Linked DNA regions of Homo sapiens: regions 2 and 3 are each linked to region 1. The links come from fine-mapping of genetic effects on gene expression. A gene starts in region 1. Each other region holds a variant in brackets. All regions are shown on one strand. Distances are from middle to middle. Region 1 holds the start of DSCAML1 (DS cell adhesion molecule like 1). Region 2 overlaps DSCAML1 (DS cell adhesion molecule like 1). Region 3 overlaps DSCAML1 (DS cell adhesion molecule like 1).

The links. PIP is the estimated chance that this variant, and not a neighbour inherited with it, causes the effect. A credible set is the group of variants that fine-mapping cannot tell apart.
Region 2: its variant is the best candidate, but not a certain one, in a credible set for the expression of DSCAML1 in tibial nerve (GTEx, PIP 0.54).
Region 3: its variant is the best candidate, but not a certain one, in a credible set for the expression of DSCAML1 in thyroid (GTEx, PIP 0.88).

Annotation. Positions count from the first base shown.
Region 1 is chr11:117,793,733-117,799,363 of GRCh38, forward strand. DSCAML1 (DS cell adhesion molecule like 1) reads right to left here and starts at 3,484. Exons shown (of 33, transcript NM_020693.4): 1 at 3,302-3,484. The coding sequence starts at 3,347.
Region 2 is chr11:117,484,321-117,489,951 of GRCh38, forward strand. All of the region lies in intron 11 of DSCAML1 (DS cell adhesion molecule like 1), which reads right to left. Among named protein-coding and RNA genes, the nearest start is that of CEP164, 160 kb to the left of the region's middle. RefSeq lists an enhancer at 5,626-5,631. The variant C/T (reference allele first, on the strand shown) is at 2,367.
Region 3 is chr11:117,435,396-117,441,026 of GRCh38, forward strand. DSCAML1 (DS cell adhesion molecule like 1) reads right to left here. Exons shown (of 33, transcript NM_020693.4): 22 at 4,424-4,541; 23 at 3,871-4,034; 24 at 3,490-3,588; 25 at 2,500-2,688; 26 at 1,727-2,014; 27 at 249-404. Among named protein-coding and RNA genes, the nearest start is that of CEP164, 110 kb to the left of the region's middle. RefSeq lists enhancers at 1-29, 2,314-3,288. The variant G/A (reference allele first, on the strand shown) is at 2,684.

The sequences.
Region 1 (5,631 bases):
CCCGGGATCTGTTCAACTTAAGCGCCGCCTTTGGGTCTACTGCTTACTTGTTTTTTGTTTCTAATTAGCTCCCCCATTCTACTGCAGAAATATATTAAAGGCAGCTGGCTTTGATGCCCAGAAAAACGAAGCGTCGGAAAGGCTTGTCGGGCATCATGGCCCTGCCAATCTCCCTCATGTTATTCTAGCAACCGGGGTCTCTCTGCCACTCAGCCCCTCCCCAGTATTCACTGGCCCTTCGCCTGCCTCCCCTAAGTTGCGTTTGCCATTTCAAGATTTTAAAAACACATTTCCCCATTGCCCCCCCCCCCTTTTTTTAATTAGACACTGAACAGAATGTTGGAGATTTTCTTAATGCCCTGACGAAGGCTTTTAATTTGGTCTTCCCAAGAGAGAAGAACCATGAGTCCCCATCGGAGAAGTTGGGGTGGGAAATGAAAAAATCAATGCAATCCATTATTTTGGCTTTTAGAAAACAGGAATTTTAGTGCCGGGGAAGCTTGTTCTTTTACACAGTAAAAATGCAAATGCAGGCAACACAGATGCTGGCACGCTGGATGGAACAACGGAGAGCGCCTCGCCGGGGTTCATCCGGCTGCCTAAACCTGGATTTGTTTTGGCAATAATAAGGCAGTTATTGGAGACTCGATAACCGATGATTAAAACACCTTCCCAGTTTAGTTCTGGGGAATCAGTCTGAGCTCAGGCATCATAAAAAAAAGGTATTTTGAGAGGAATGGAAATAACAGAAGCTTAAAACACATTCAATAACTGCTTAATTCCATCCAAAGGATGCTCCATCTCATCCTGTTTTCTTCTCTCTCTCCCTGCCTCCTCCCGCTCCTCACAGATGGACGTACAAATTATTGCAAGAGGATATTGTTTTCTGTAACAGGCTCGAACATTCACATTTACATTTTCCTTGGTGCCGCGGGGGTGACTGGCAACGGGAGAGAAAATACTCCAAACCCCATCTTTCTTGCTGTCTCCGCATCACATCTTCCCCCAAGCCGCCTCTGCCACCCCCTACCACGCCACCCCAAGCAGAACAGGCCCCAGGGACCAGCCTGGCACCTAAGACCCAATTAAGGCACCAAGGAAAAGAAAAGCCTGTCTGGCGAGGCACCCTGGCGCCCAACAGACAGACGCTGGAGCCTCTGAATCGCAGGGGCACCGGGCTCTGCAGACCCAAAGGCCACCGAGGAGCCGCCACAACTGGCATCTCCAGCCCGCCTACAGGTCCAAGGCCACTGGCAACTTCCATCTCGAGTTGGACAAGATTTTGCCCCTTGGCTGTCCTGTTGCCTTCTGGGCCTTTCTCCACCCCCAACCCCATCTGCTCCCGCCCTATCAAATAGCTCGGCTTCATTTATTAATGCCAGGCTCCTGGAAGGGGGAGGGGAGTGTCCTTCAGGTATTTGCTGAGGGGCCTCCTGCACTCCCCGGGAATGGGCTGTCCTGGAAGATGTCTCCAGAGAGTGTTGTGGAGGCATGGGGGAGTTGGGGACAAAGCCGGGCTAGAGTGTGGCAGCGGCTTCGGCCTGTGCTTTCTCGCCTGACAAATTGCGAAAGGGGATGGGGGTTGGAGAGAGAACTATCGAGAGAGAAAGCCGCTCCTCACCTTATGTATTTTTAATATTAATGTAATTAAAGCTGCGAGCCGAGCCAGCCTGCGGGGGCGGAGGGAGGCAGGAAGAACCTGGGGAGAGGGAGACTGGGGTTCGGGGGTGGGGCTTGAACAGGAGGCAGGCTTCTTGCTCTGCTAAGGTAGGATGAAGGAGTGCGATGCGGGGGGCAAGGGGTTAAACAGCAGAGACCAGCCTTGGTGTGTAACCCGGGGGACCCCACTGGGCCTGAGAAACTCAACTACTTTGTCGACGATTTTTGAGGCCACCCTTCCTTGTCCCGCAATCCGATCGCCTAGTAAATGCCAGCAGTATCTGGGCCTTGAGTCTGGCTTTGACCCGGCAGTATCTACAAATAAGGGTTATCCTCTTTCCCCCAACCCACGATGTATCGCAGTGGGCTCCGGCAGGCTGCAGACTCCAGACCCCTGGAGCACCGGCAGGGCAGGGTTGGACCCCTCCCCGGGTGGCAACCCTCCACTGGAGTGCCCTTCCTCATCGTCTTGGGGTTAAGAGTTGCCGCCCGGCCAGGGCAACAGCCAGGGCAAAGGGAGAGAGAAGCCGCCCCGGGGCGAGAAGGAGAAAAGTTAGAGGGCTGAACAGGTGACGCTGAGCTTGTTGGAGCGTGTGTGCTCCACCACGCAAGGGCGCGGAGTTCGGCCGCCTCATCTCCCGCCATCTGCGCGCCCGGGGGCACGTCCTCTGCGATAGCCTGGAACCCAGACTACCTGCGCCTGCCTGGTCCCGACTCAGTGCCCAGGTGGCTTCAGTCGGAAATGTCTGCCCTCTTCCAACCTCCCGATCCCGGCTGCCTCGCGGATCAGGTACGCAGCGCCCCAGCCGCAGGTCTGGACATGCCGGACACCTGGACCCACCCCTAGCAACCCCCTCTCTCCGGGAAGAGGGACACGCCCCCCAGCCTGAAGACTTGTCCCCAGGTCCAACTGGCCAGGCGCGGAAGCGGAGAATCTCGCATCTTGGGGCGCGCTGCCCGAGGTGGCCACGGTGGCGCACCAAGCCGGGGCTAAAGCCGGGGCAGAGGGGTGGGGTAGGGCCGGGGGAGGGTGACCTCTGGGTTTGGAGAACAAACTTGCTATCCGAGGGACCTCCAGCTCTCGGGACTCTCACTATCCCCACCCTGCCTCCAGCCAATGCGCGGATAAGCGCCATGCGGTGCGCCAACATTCGCGCCAGGGCTGGGGTCCGCGGCGGGAGAGGGACGCACGGACATAGCGGAGGAATCAGCCGCCGAGTCCGAGGCCTGAATAAGCAAGGACTCCTAGGTCAAGAGTCACGGCCTGAGGACCCCTCGACTCGGAGGGCACTCCGGGGTCCCAGTGCCACCAAGCCGCAGGAAGAGGGCAAGGGGCTGGGGGAGGGGTCCAGGGCAGAACTGCCGCCGTGCAGGGAGCAGGGAGATGAGGGGCTCCTTTGCCACCACCCCTACGGGCGCGCCCCAAAACGGCAGACGCGGGTGGCTGGCGGAGCGGTCGGGGGCTGACTCTCACTCGGCCCCTGTCAGGGTGCCTGCCCCTCCCCGCTGCGCCCCACCCGGGGCCTTGCACCCCGGTCGGTTCCCCCACGCACCTGGAGCCCGCCGGGCACCCCGCCTCGCCGCCAGCCGCGCCACCCTGGCCCCGCCGCCTCCGCCGCCCAGCCGCCCGCGCAGGTCTCACCTTTGTGTAAAGAGTCCAGGAGCAGGAGGAAAGTTACCAGCCACATGCCATAAAGAGGCCCTATTCTCCGGGGAGGTGGTCCTGTGGCCGGCCGTGCGGCAGCGCCTCTCCCCCGCTCAGCGCGCTCCCAGCCGCCCGCACTCGGCGCCCCGCTCTCTCTGCTCCTCAGCCCAGCGCTCGGCTGCGGCGGCGGCTCCTCCCTCCTCGGCTCCCCGGCTCCTGTCATCCGCGGGGCTGGGCTAGGCGGCCGCTCTCCCCGCCCCCCCGCGGCACCCCGGGTGGTGAGCGCCGCGCGAGCCCGGAGCCCAGACGGACCCCAGCCCCACAAGCCCAGGAACAGGAGCGGCGGCCCGGGCCAGACCGCCCCGACCCGGCTCCGCTGTCTGAGAGGCGAGGGGTCCCTGTCACCCACCGGCTTGGAGCCTGTGGTCGCAGACAGGCATGTGTCATCCATGTGCCAACAGCCTGCCATGCTTCAGCCAAGGACGCCCGGTTTCTACTGGCCTAAGTCACCTGGGACACGAGCTTCCTGCCTCTTTCGGACTCAGCTTACCCGGCCCCCCCACCCTCCCCAGGAGGAGCATGGACGCTCTGGGTAGAATCCCAGGCTTTTCAGTGCTGTCTGGTGCTACTCCCCACCCCAAAGTTCATAGCTGCCCTTCCAACCCCTCGTGACTTCCGCAAGCCTGCCCTCCGGAGAACCCCAGATGAGTCCAGCCACCCCCTGGCACGCTGTTCGAATTTTCCTCAGCACTTGGCACATTGTGACTATTTAAACGGTTATTCACAATGAGCAGTTTAATGTCTACGCTACCTGTGTTATCTTCCTCCTTTGTCTTCACCTACCCACCCCTATAGCTTTCCTGCCTGACAGAAATTGGCTTATTCCTTACACTCATCTTTATGAAGTTGGCATAGAATAGGACTGGAGTGAGGGCGTCTTCTCAGTGACCAAATGAATGTTGAGCACCTGCTGTGTCAGGCACTGGCTCAGGCACTGGGGACTCAGGCATGGCTGAGCCAGGTCTGCTGTAAAAGGTCAATATGGTTGGAAAGCCCTCCTTTCGTCTTAATTCCAAAATAAGAGGATACATAGAACCCAGAGAAGGGATCCAGGTATCCCTGAGAATGGCCTATGAGCCAGGACTGTAGCTCCCTTTGCAGGGTCATGGAAGCTGCTTTGAGTATGCCCTGACAATTGGGCTGTACCTGGGCAGACTCTAAGGTGTGGAGTGCGAAGTTTGGAGGGAGAGAAGGGGTCCACTGGCTAGCTGCATTTGCCAGAGGAAGAAAATTTACTTCCTCGAAATGTGCGGCCTAAGTTCACATGGGAGAATTGGGACTCCTCACTCCCAGGTTTTGCCAAAATATCCCTAGAAATTTTAACTAAATTTTGAAAAGTGTGTTTTTTAATATGTTAAAATGTACATAACATAAAATTTACCATTTCAACCATTTGAAGTGTACTATTCTGTGGCATTAAATACATTCACGATGTGCAACCATCATCACTTACCATTTCCAAAACTTTTTCATCATCCCAAACAGAATCCTGCACCCATTAAATAATAACTCCCCCTTCCCCTCCCCTCCCCCAGCTCCTGGCAACCACTATTCTACTTTGTCTCTATGAAGTTGCTTATTCTAGGTACCTCATAAGTGAGATCATAAAGTATGTATCCTTTTGTGCTTGGCTTACTTCACTCAGCATAATGTTTTCAAGGTTCGTCCTTTAAACGGGTGAGAAAATCGGGGCTTAACTTGTTCAAGGCCACCAAGGTTGTATCAGAAGCAAGACTAGAACCCAGGCCTCCCGACTCCAGAGCAGAGCTTGCTCTATAAGCTGCAGCATCCCTCGGTGGCTCAGCTCTTCATGCAAAATCACCACCCTGAAACAATTTGCAGGAGGTGTTTTGTCATCTGGAAACACAGGCATAGAACAGAGACGGGGGGACAGACTGCAGGGGGTGTTTGAGATGACCCAGACCGATCTTTTGCTTTACAGATAAGGAAACTGAGGCCCAGAGTGGGGAAGCCATGAGCCTTCCCCGAGGTCACGCAGGGAGTGACAGAGCCCTCACGTTTCCAGTCTTCTGTCTTAGCTCCCATCTCTCACCGCCCTCAGCCTGCTGGCTTATTCTTCTACCATGCCCCCTCCCTTCTAAAGGGAACGGTCATTGAGAGGAATCCAGTTATTTAAAACTAAGCCTATTGACCCAGAGCACCTGGTCAGGTCATGCCTAAAATAAACCGCTAAGGCAGACAGGATGAAAGGGGCTGCTGTCTGCTGGGAGGGGATCTGAGTGGGCCTGGGGTAGCGGCACAGCTGC
Region 2 (5,631 bases), 310 kb before region 1:
AGGCTCCCCGAAGTCACACCACACAGCAAGCCACCTCCTCTGCTGCCTTGTCATGCAGGACTTGATGCTGACGACAGCCCTGGCCTCCAGGCCCCCGCACCAGCCTCTCAGCACATTCCCCAGCCCCAGCTCATCAAATAATGAAGCAGATAAATTTTATAATGCACGGCATTACACTAGGATATACAATAAAATGCAAAAGACAAATAACGAGGTGCAAGTTATAATGAAGAAAAAGCCTGCAGTCAGAGACATCCGAGTATGAATTATTGACTAAGGTTTTACACTCTCAAGGATGTGCGGAGGAATATTTTTCCATCAAAGATTTGCATAATTCACTCGTATAAACCTGGGTGGAATATAGAGTAAGATTTTACACCAACAAGTCAGGACTTGCATTGCAGATGCCTCCATTTTTTACTGGAGAATTGAGCTCGGGTGTCGGGGAGGCTCGTAAGCGGACTGGGGACTGGGACCCCCATGGGTCGGGCCCTGAGGCCTCCTTCCTGGGGAGGAATCCTGTTCCTGAGAGGTTGCTGCTGAAGCCACAGAGAAGCAGAGGAACAGTGTGTGTGTGTGTGTGTGTGTGTGTGTGTGTGTGTGTGTGTGTGTGTGTGTGTGTAAGTGGGGCTGGGAGGGTCTTTCTTTGGTAGGAGGACTTCACAGTTCTGCAGCACACCTCTGTTCTGTTCTCCAGGCAGGCCTGCACTAACCCTTCCAGGACCTGTGTGTGAATTACAAAGGCAACCCCACCATGCCTCTGGCTGGGTGCTGCCTGGTGCCGGGAGCCACAGCTTGGCCAATGAAGCAGGGACCATGTTTCAGACCCCATTCACCCCTGAGGCTATGTACTTTTGAGCAGTGCACAACCTGTGTATCCATACATGCCATTCCCACTTCAGGGAACCTGCCTTTCTAGTCAGCTTTGTTCAGCCCTGTGGGCAGCCAGGGACAGCAGGGTCCCCAGGGATCCTTGGCCCCTCAGCCCTTCTGTGTGTGGTAACAACCATACCTGGAGCCTGAGACAGGGTCCCTTCACCCTTCCACCAGCTTAGGATGGCAATGAGCATCACACACCACAACTCTTACAGTCCCCTAGCTCAGGGCTAGTTCAGGGGAGCCCGTTCATGAGGAAGAGGAGAGAAGCTTGAGGGGCTTGGGGCCAGGCCAGCCTGGGATCTGCTTCTGTGGCTGCGAGCTATGTGGCCTTCCACCCCTTAAAGCTAACTTCTGTGAGCCCCACGGAGCATTGTGAGGACAAAGTGAACCCACATATGTAAACTGCCTGCCACACAGCACTTGCTTAAGAAACCTGGATTCTAGTCCTATCCCCAAGGGGTTCCATCAAGACAGGAGCTCTTTTTTATAGAAACGTGTGACGTGCAACATAGATTATTGCCTTTCATTTTGTGTGTCAGGACAAGGGTCTTTTTGGGTAGAGGAAAAAAGCCTAGGTCTGTGGCCTGAAGACAGACTGTGGTACTGAAAGCAAATGTCAGAGAATGTGGTCCTAGGCAAAAGAGGACCTGGCCAGAGTCAACCTCCATTGAAGTGTCAAAAGTGGCTCTTCTTGGCCTGGCCAATGGTTCCTTGTGTCATAGGCTACACCTACTGGTGTCAGCCAGCGCTGGCCGGTCCTAGCTTGATAACCAGAACCCCACTGGGCTGGTATAATTAGCCCCTGAATTCAAAACAACTGGGTGCCAGGTAATAAGGACTACCTCACATGTACAAGTGGCAGGGAAAAGGGTGTGTGGCTTGACATGCATTACCAGACTCCATGGAAAAGGCTCAAAGAAAAAACTAGGTCAGAAGTCATTTTCTTTTCCATCCTCGCCAGCGCAAGTGAATGCAATCAGCCAATTAGCTAAACTGGGTCTGCTGAACTCCCAAAATGGCGGATGGGAAAGTGGCGGATGGGAAAGTGGCGGATGGGAAAGTGGTGGATGGGAAAGTGGCGGATGTGAAAATGGCAGATGTGAAAGTAGTGGATGTGAAAGTAGCGGATGTGAAAATGGCGGATGTGATAATGGCGGATGTGAAAGTGGCTGATGTGAAAATGGCGGATGTGAAAGTGGCGGATGGGAAAGTGGCGGATGTGAAAATGGCGGATGTGAAAGTGGCAGATATGAAAGTAGCGGATGTGAAAATGGTGGATGTGAAAATGGTGGATGTGAAAGGCGCATGTCTCAGGCAAGAAGGAAAGCAGAGACCTGGTGCAGTAAGATGGATGTATATCCTTCCATGGGAATACTGCCAGCTTCCTTCCAGGCCTTGCCCCTAAAAGTTAATCTGGGAAGTGCAAGACTGTATAAGACCCATGTCTGTTACTCCTACAAGTTCAGAAAATACACGTGTACAAGTTA[C/T]TGGCTTCAGGTGTTACTTGCCAGGTGATTCCACAGAATCCTAGCATCCTAGCATTGCAGAGCCCAGATGAAGACCTGTTCTACTGAATTTGTAGCAGCTGCTGGCCACATGGGGCTAATGGGCACTTGAAATACAGCCAGCCCAAATTGGGATGTGTGATAAGTATAAAATACATAGTGGATTTCAAAAATGTAGGAAGAAAAAAAAAAAGAATGTAAAATACCTTTTTTTTTTTTTTTTTTTTTTTTTTTTTTGAGACAGAGTCTTGCTCTTGTTGCCCAGGCTAGAGTGCAGTGGTACAATTTTGGCTCACTGCAACCTCCGCCTCCTGGATTCAAGTGATTCTCCTGCCTCAGTCTCACAAGCAGCTGGGATTACAAGCGCGTACCACTACGCCTGGCTAATTTTTGCATTTTTAGTAGAGACGGGGTTTCACCATATTGGTCAGGCTGGTCTTGAACTCCTGATCTCAGGTGATCCACCCGCCTCAGCCTCCCAAAGTGCTGGGATTACAGGTGTGAGCCACTGCACCTGGCTGTCATTAAGTTTTATATTGACTATCTGTTAATATTTTAGATGTATGGAGTTAAATAGAATATACTATTATAATTAATCTCACCTGTTTTTTATTTTTTTGAACATGTGACAGAGAGGGGATTTCAAATTACATATTATTTGGCTCACGTTATGGTTCTACTGAATGGAACTGGTATAGATCAGTGACACAGACCCTTCCTTTGGCAAATGGAGAAACTGAGGTGATGCAAGGAAGCAATTTGCCCAAGGTCACGTTGCTGGTAAGCAGAAGAGCATCTTAAAAGAGGATGGGTTGCAGAGGGCAGTACTGAACACACAGCGATGCTGTGAAGGGTGGGCGGCCCGGTATCACTGGGAATGCGATTTCTCAGCTCTCTAGGACTCATAATTACAAGCTCAGGTTATCTGTTCCTAACATTAACCAAGAAATATCAGGTCTTGTTCTGGGGACCCTATTTGACGAAGGACATTGACAGGCTGGAGTGTGACCAGTAAGATGGGCCGATTTCAAAGCATGCTGAGAACTGGGAATTAGTAACCCAGGGAGCAAGGGAGAGACACTGCAAGGGGGGAAGGGAAGACCTCCTACTTGGCCTAAGAAGGAATGTTCTAGTATTTTCTGCTGTTTGGGGAAAGGGCCACAGTGGGAAGTGGCAAGCTCCCTGCATTGGAAGTAGACAACCTGTGGCCTCACAGAAAGGAGTCAATTAAGGCCTGGATCTGGGCCCCTTGTCTTTGGGCCCTTGGGGGTGCCCGGGTCTCAGGAGAGGGAAAGACGGTCTGGGAATGTGGCTCACTGTCTGATGAAGTGGTTCTATGAATCAGAGTACTCGTGTCCTTGCAGATGGGCGCTTTCAGCCCCTTGTCCTCAGTAAGAGGCAGGGAATCCTCTTCCCCTCTTCTTCTGCCAACTAACCAGAACAGAGAACTCTGCCACTGTGCCCCTCCATCCGGCCCTGCACCCAGCCTCCAAGGACCACGGTGTCCTCCTGTGCCCACAAATAGGAGCTTTGGCCCTCCTGGCTGCTGTACTGCTGGGCTTAACAAGGCAGCCCCTTAATAGGGGGAAGTTCAGGGCATAGGTGCCTGCCCCATTGATCCTTCACCTTCTTCCACCTCCCCCTTACTTCTTGCTCTGGACTACAAGATCTCTCTGCTTCATTGAGTCGCAGTAATAAACAAGATTGAACTCTCTCTATATGGAGACCAGCTGTACCTCACAGGGCTTTTTGGGTGAAGGCGGCCACCACGAATTCCCTGGGGAGATGGTCATATGCACTCACCAGGAGTACAAATCCTGACATGCACAGACACAGACACACACACACACACCACACACAGAGGGGCAGTGTCAGAAACACACCTCAACAGACAGTCACAAACACAGTCACCCTCACAGCCTATGCTCTGACACCCTTACCATAAACCCATGGACGGCATTACACACACATAACCCGATGCAATGATCAATTGCATGTCAATACCCTGATGTGCTTGTTTAACACACATCTCCCCACACTGCTGTAGTCCATAAGCACAGGCTCTCTCCACACACACACTTGTATAGTTCCCTTTTATTGGGTGCTTACCATGTCCTGGCAGGATTCTAAGTACTTTGCATGAATGAACTCATCTGAGGTAGGCACTGTTATTATGCCCCGGTTCCAAAGCCTGTGTCTCAGTGTATTTCTTGACGAAGCTCCATGGCCTCCCGCATGCCCAGGTTCCCCTGACAAAGCAGGCCCTGAGCTGGATGCCTCTGCCTTTTGGCCTGTTGTTCAGTGGTTCCTCCCAACAGCAACCACGAAAGCAAGTCTTATCATCTCCACTTTTCAAATGAGGAAACTGAGGCTTCCAGAAAGTGTTTCTTCCACCTCTAAGGGGGCTGGCCACCTCTAGCCATCTGTTTGTCTGCCACCCTTGCATACAGTCCCTGGCTTTTGGAAATGGAATTTGGCTGTCACCAAAAAGCTGTGGCCTCTGCGGCGGGGCAGCTGCAGCAGGTACTCCTGGGGCAGGCAGTGGGGACTGCTGCTTTAGGGGTGCAGGCGGGAGAGCCGGGGTGGGGTATATGCACAGGGCTGGGTCCTGCGTGACAAATGCTAATGACAGCCACAAAAGCACCTCACTGCTCTGTAGGGCACAGGAGGCTTTAATGAAATACAACTTCTCTGCTTTCCTGCAATCTAATTCAATTAACAGCCAGGGAAATCTGATTTCTCTTTACAAACGGGTGCAGGGGAGACTTTCTGGGGACTTGAGAGAAGGGAAGGGCTAGGGCTAGGCACAGTGGTGTGGGTGAGCTCCTTCTCAATACACAGCTCCTTCCTATACAGCAGCTTTAGGTGGGGTAGGGTCTTCTCTCTGAGACCCTGGGGGAGTGAAGACCCTGGTGTGAAGACGGCCCATTTCATTCAAGCCTCAGTTACAGTCCCCAGCACCTGCTACAGTGCCTGGCACTGTGATGACCAAATTGGGGCATACTCTGGTGGAGGCCAAGGAGGCTTCCTGATGACTTCCAGGGCTCTTCCCTGACACCCCACATTGCATGCAGGCCTCTCCTGCGGGGCATCCCCTGCATGGCACGTGTCCTCCGGCAGCGTCCTTGCCTCCTTGTGTGTGACTGTGAGACTCTCCAGGGCAGAAGCATCTCTATTCCAGGGCTTAGCTCGTGTTTGTGGAAAGGAGAGCTTTACTGGGTATCTTTGCCGTCCTCCTCCAGTGCCC
Region 3 (5,631 bases), 360 kb before region 1:
CCAGTGTGTACCTCTAAATATTAGCCCTGACTGGGGCAGGCACAAAGTCTTGGGGGCATAGAGGAGGAAGTGGTGAACGAAACCTTCTGAACTAAGGAGGTTTCAGAAAGTCTGAGTGGCTGCTCCTCCTTCAAGGGGACACAGGCACTCTGTATCATCCAGATGGTGCTGTGAGCCAGGGAAGGGGGGGGACAATGTGGCTGAGAGCCAACACCCCCTCCTGGAAGGCCCATAGGAAGCTCCCCCACCTCGGAGTCGCTTCAGCCGTTTCTCCTTCCTCTTCTTGCGTACGATGAAGAGCAGTGCCACCCCCAGTGTGGCCAGGATGACAGGGCAGCCGATGGTGAACAGCTTCTTCACATCATCCCCTTCACCTTGAGCAGACTTGATGGGTGGAATGGTGCCTGAATGAGGGCAAAGAATAGAATTAGATGTCCCTTATGAGCCAGGTGCTGTGCAGAACATCTCATGGGTGGGGCAGTCCTCTGACCTCTCTTGCTGCCCTTGGGCTCTGACCTCCACCTCCTGGCACAGAACCCTGGACTTCCCCTCTGCTCCCCAAATTCTGGTCCTATCAGGACAGCCATGAACAGTTGTGTAGTTTTAATATTGCATTTTATTAACAAAGTCCTGGTACTGTTGTAGAATTAGCCTAAAGTCTCCTGGAGTTAGTCTCTCGCCTGTTGAAGTTCAGTGCTCATTCCCAGAGAGTGGATTGATGGGCTTAAATTCTGATATCCAGCTGGGGTGGGGAGAACAAAGGGTGAAGCATGGTAGGGAGAAGTCTGGGCAGTGGACCCTGGGTTCTCTTCCCCAGATGGAGACAAAAACCACTACAAACCCTACATTCTCTCCCTGCTCACCCCTCCTGGGGGCCATATCTGTTAACCTGGGGCTCCTGTGGGGAAGCATGGCAAGTTCTCCTGCTGACATAACCCTCTGCCAAGCCCTGACCCTTGCCTGTTTCAGAGCTTTGCTTAAGAGTCACCTCCTTCATGAAGCCTTCCTTGCTTGAGTCCATCCCCTTTTAATACTGCTTTTATTCTGTTTCCTTAACACATAGGTAGACTTGTGACAATGGGCTTCTATGAATTCAGCCTTCCATGTCCCTTCAATGGATGTGTGTGTGTGTGTATGTGTGTGTATGTGTGCACGTGTGTATGTATCCCCATGTGGCAGATGCAGTTAGGAACTGGTAGTATGCCTTTTCTGTGGATCCTGGAGTCTCCATGTTCAAAAAGATGGTGGCCACTCAACCCTCGCAGGACTCCAAGAGAGCAAGAAACAAATCAGTACAGGGTTAAGCCACCAGGTTTTGGTATTTGCGACTGCAGCATAGGCTGTCCCCTCCTGGCTAATATTCCATATCAGCAGAAAGTTCTTAGAGGTCAGGACCTCAACCACACCTCTACCTCCCTTGTCACCTCCCTGAAACAATGCACAGTGATTGAGGACTGCAGCTTCAAAGACTCTCCATCTTTGGTATTACTGACCTATGTGTCTGTCCATCTGTAGTGGCCATTGGTGCATCTGCCCGCTTACCTGGCTGCAACAAACCTGATGTCCCCTTTGTCAGCCCCTTCACCTGCAGGCCAGCATTTCCCCCACCTGCATTCCTGCCTGTTTTTCTATTAGTCTGTCTCTTTATGTATCTGCCACTCTGCCCACTTCCTTCGCACCACCCTGCTCCAGCCTCTGTACCATCCCTTCCACCCTTGCGACTCACTGCCATCGTAGTCCAGGGTGGCGAACTGGGCTGTTTCATTGCCGCAGCCCGCACTGTTGCAAGCCCTCATGCGCAGCTCGTACCACGTGGCCTCTCGCAGTTCCGTCAGAAACACCTCCCCGGAGCTGTTGGCCCGGAGGCCCTGCCAGGCCCAGGTCCCCTTGGGCCGGTACTCCAGAACGATGGCTGTGATAGGGCAGCCCCCATTGTTCCAGCCCTGCAGGTTAAGCCGAGCATGCGTGGAGTTGATGTGGGTGAAGAGGTGTTGGTCTTTGCTGAAGGAGGGCTCTGGCAGGCCGGAGGGAGAGAGAGAGGTTAGAGAGATTTGGTGGGAGGCAGGACTGGACTGGGCTGGGCTGGAAAGGATTTCCCTGGGGCAGCTGGGATGGCAGTGGCTCCAGGAGAATACATGTTTGGCACAGATGGGGTGGGGAAGCCCCAGGGCGCAGAGGAGGAAGAGGAGGGGAGGGAGGAGAGGGAAGAAAAGGGCAGGGCCTGGAGAGGGGCCTCAGTAGAGGAGGAAGGGAGCTGGGAAGAGGCAAAGGAATGCCACCTTCGGCCACCCGGTGGGGAAGTGGAACTAGTTTTTCCTAATGGGATCCATCGGGACACTGTGGTGACGGGAAGGAGGCTGAGGCTCCTCCCTTCAGTCTCCCTGCATCCCTGGACCCCTCCTTCCCCACCCCAGCCACCTTACACCCCATACCTGGCCCCTCTAGCCCACCCTCCCTGGGCCCATCGCTCCTTCCCTGCCCCAGTGGCCTGGGCCTCACCCCGCCCGTGGGTCTTGGCCTCGATGATCTCGCTGATGCGCCCAGAGCCCACGCTGTTCTTGGCTGCCAGCTTCACCTTGTACCACGTGCCACACTTGAGGCTGTCCAGCTTGAAGGAGCGCTCGCTGGAGCTGATGAACACATCCTTCCACTCCTCGCTGTTGTCCACCGAGTACTGTAGCAC[G/A]AAGCCTGCGGAGGGTAGGCCTGATTCAGGTGGGGGCAGGGCAGGGCAAGGCAGCAGAAGCCCAGCCTCAGGTACCCCAACAGGGGGCTGGGCTCCAGGCAGGGGGCAGAGTCAGGCTTTTGGTCATTGGAACGGGCATATGCTCCTTAGAAGCAAAATTGGAAGGATCAGCCCCAGTCAACTCTCTATGTTAAACCAACCAATCAACAAAACACTGTGAGGGCCTGGGGTCCAGCCCCCGGCGGGTCTGACGCTGTCACTTTGGTTCTAGTGTTAGGGGTTAGCGGCAGGTTCGGGAGGGGAGAAAACCAGAGTTGTGAGGCTCACAAGGGGTCCTGTCTAGATCTTCACTAGGATCTAGACACGGCCCCCTGAGCAGCAGGCTCAGAAGCACCTGGGGCGTGTTAGAAAGGCAGGTCCTCAGCCCCAGCCCAGAGCGCTGAGTCAGAACTGCATTGTTACAAGGCCCCTTGGTGACGCAGACGCACGCCCACACTTGGAAAGCACTGATCTAGTAGTCCATTTGTCTACTTCGACAGATTGGGAAACCCAGACTCAGAGAGGGAAACAGCCTACTCCAGGGTCACACAGCTCACAAGTGGCATTGGAGGGGCGGGCGTACTAAATCCCAGGTGCCTGGGCCATTGCAGTTCCCTTGGCACTTGAGTGACTTCCTTGTGGGTCACTTGGCCCCCAGATCGTTTCTGTCATTTGGAGACAAATGGCAGAAGTGGGTGAAGCCCCTTCCCTGCCCCGGGCCCAGAATTCCTTCCCCTATCTTCCCCCGCATCCAGACCCCTCCTCACCTCGGATGGAGCTGCCCCCATTGTCACCTGGAATCCAGGTCAGGGTGATGGACGAAGCTGAGGTTTTGGAGACAGTGAGGCGGGGCTGGTCCGGGGGAACTGTGAGGGGAAAGCCACCACCCCTTAGCACAAGGGCGGACCCTGTGATGGGGTGTGGGGAGTCCCCCCGTGACGGGAAGGTGCTGGCTCTCCCACACCCTCACTCCCACTCCCACTCCCCAGCTCTCCTGCCTCCCCTTCCATGTGCACCTCTGTTTCTCCAGAGGTCTGTCTCTCCCTTGGTTTGGCTTCTTCCATTCGATGACCCTCTCGCATGATGGAATCCCTACCCTTTCTCCATCCCTGTCCCCACCTGGGGTCACCTGCCTCACAGAGCCTCACCTTGCACCAGAAGGTTGACGATGATGGTGTCAAAGCCACCAGTGTTGGTGGCCGTGCACGTGTAGTAGCCAGAGTCCTCAGCCTTCACTGCACGCAGCAGCAGTGTGCCATTGGTGTGGATGAGCCGGTGCCCATCCATGGACACTGGAATGGCCGAGTCTTCACTGCCAGGGGCGAGGATGGGGCGGGTGGGTCATGTCAAGCACCCCTTCCTCCTGAGGCCCTCCCCCCGGTGTGTGACAAAGAGAGCTGGGGGTGGAAGGAGGCTCGCCAGGGAACGCCGGGTTCTTGGGGCTTTGCTCAGCACTCCCTGGGGGTATGAGGTAACCCAGCCTCTTTAACCATCCGGGGAAGGGAGGTCCTTGGCTCCCAAGAGGGGAGCCAGGAGGCCAGGCCTGCTTGAGAGAGCAGTAGCAGCACACCCTGCAGGGCCTCTGCAGGCCTGGAGGCAACCGGGTCACCAGGCAGGAGGGCCCCAGACTCTTCTCCACACCGCTCTTCTACTATATCCCTCTTTGGGGCCACCCCATCCCTCCACTGTCCCGACACACACCTGTCCTTGGTCCACTTCACAGCAGGGGCTGGATCTCCCACTGAATTGCAAGGCAGCCGAACATCTTTCATCCAAGGTGTTGTCACGGTGCCCCCAAAGGAGATGATCTTTGCTGGGGCTACAGGGAGGAGAGGATGAGGGCCACTCCACTTCTACCCCTGCACAATATCCTGGCCTCCTTCCTTAGGGCCCCCTGGATTTACAGTTCAAATCCTCCCTCCCCGATCTGACCTCCACCTTGGGCTTTTGGTGAGGGGTAGGTGTCAGGGAATATTGGCTGGGAGACATTGACTCAAGAAACATTGATGAAATACCAGTTATGGTCAGGATCACAAGAGGCTCTGAGGATTCAAAAAATGAGTATGATTTATTCCCTGTCCTCACGTTGATCACCATCCAAGAGGGAGACAGATACTTAAGGAAAAATTATAACGGGGCAAAATGCTATGGTAGGTGCAGGCACGAGGAAGCCTAGGGGTGCGAGGCAGGGGGAATGAATGCTGCCCATAAGTGGGCAGTGGAGGCAACGGCCGGGAATAGCATCTGGAATTGGAAGCTCTGACTTGAAGGTTAAGAAAGACTTTATAAGCAGGGAAGGAGACACATGTCAAGAAGAGGGAATAGCACTAAGCACAGACATGGAGACCTGAAGCTCACGGCAGCTGTGAGGGTTTGCAAATACTCTGGGGTAACCAAAGCTTGAGTCCAAGGGGACGGGCAGAAGTAGAATCTTGGGGGCTTTGTTGGCAGGGCCAGGAGACTGGACTCCCTCTTAGAAAGCCGCCACCAGAGGGTTATAAGAAGTGGTGTTGGACAGGCCTGGTGGCTCACGCCTGTAATCCCAGCACTTTGGGAGGCTGTGGCAGGCGGATCACCTGAGGTTGAAGTCAGAAGTTCAAGACCAGCCTGGCCAACATGGCAGAACCCTGTCTCTCTACTAGAAATACAAAAAATTAGCCGGGCACGATGGCAGGTGCCTGTAACCCCAGCTACTCGGGAGGCTGAGGCGAGAGAATCGCTTGAACCTGGGAGGTGGAGGTTGCAGTGAGCCGAGATCATGCCACTGCACTCCACGCTGGGTGACAGAGCAAGACTCTGTCTCAAAAAAAAAAAAAAAAAAAAAAAAAAAGGAGTGGTGTCCTCAGCCGATTTCAGATGCATCCTGGCTGCTTGCAGAGGATAGTTTGGTGGAGGGGGTCCTGGAGGAC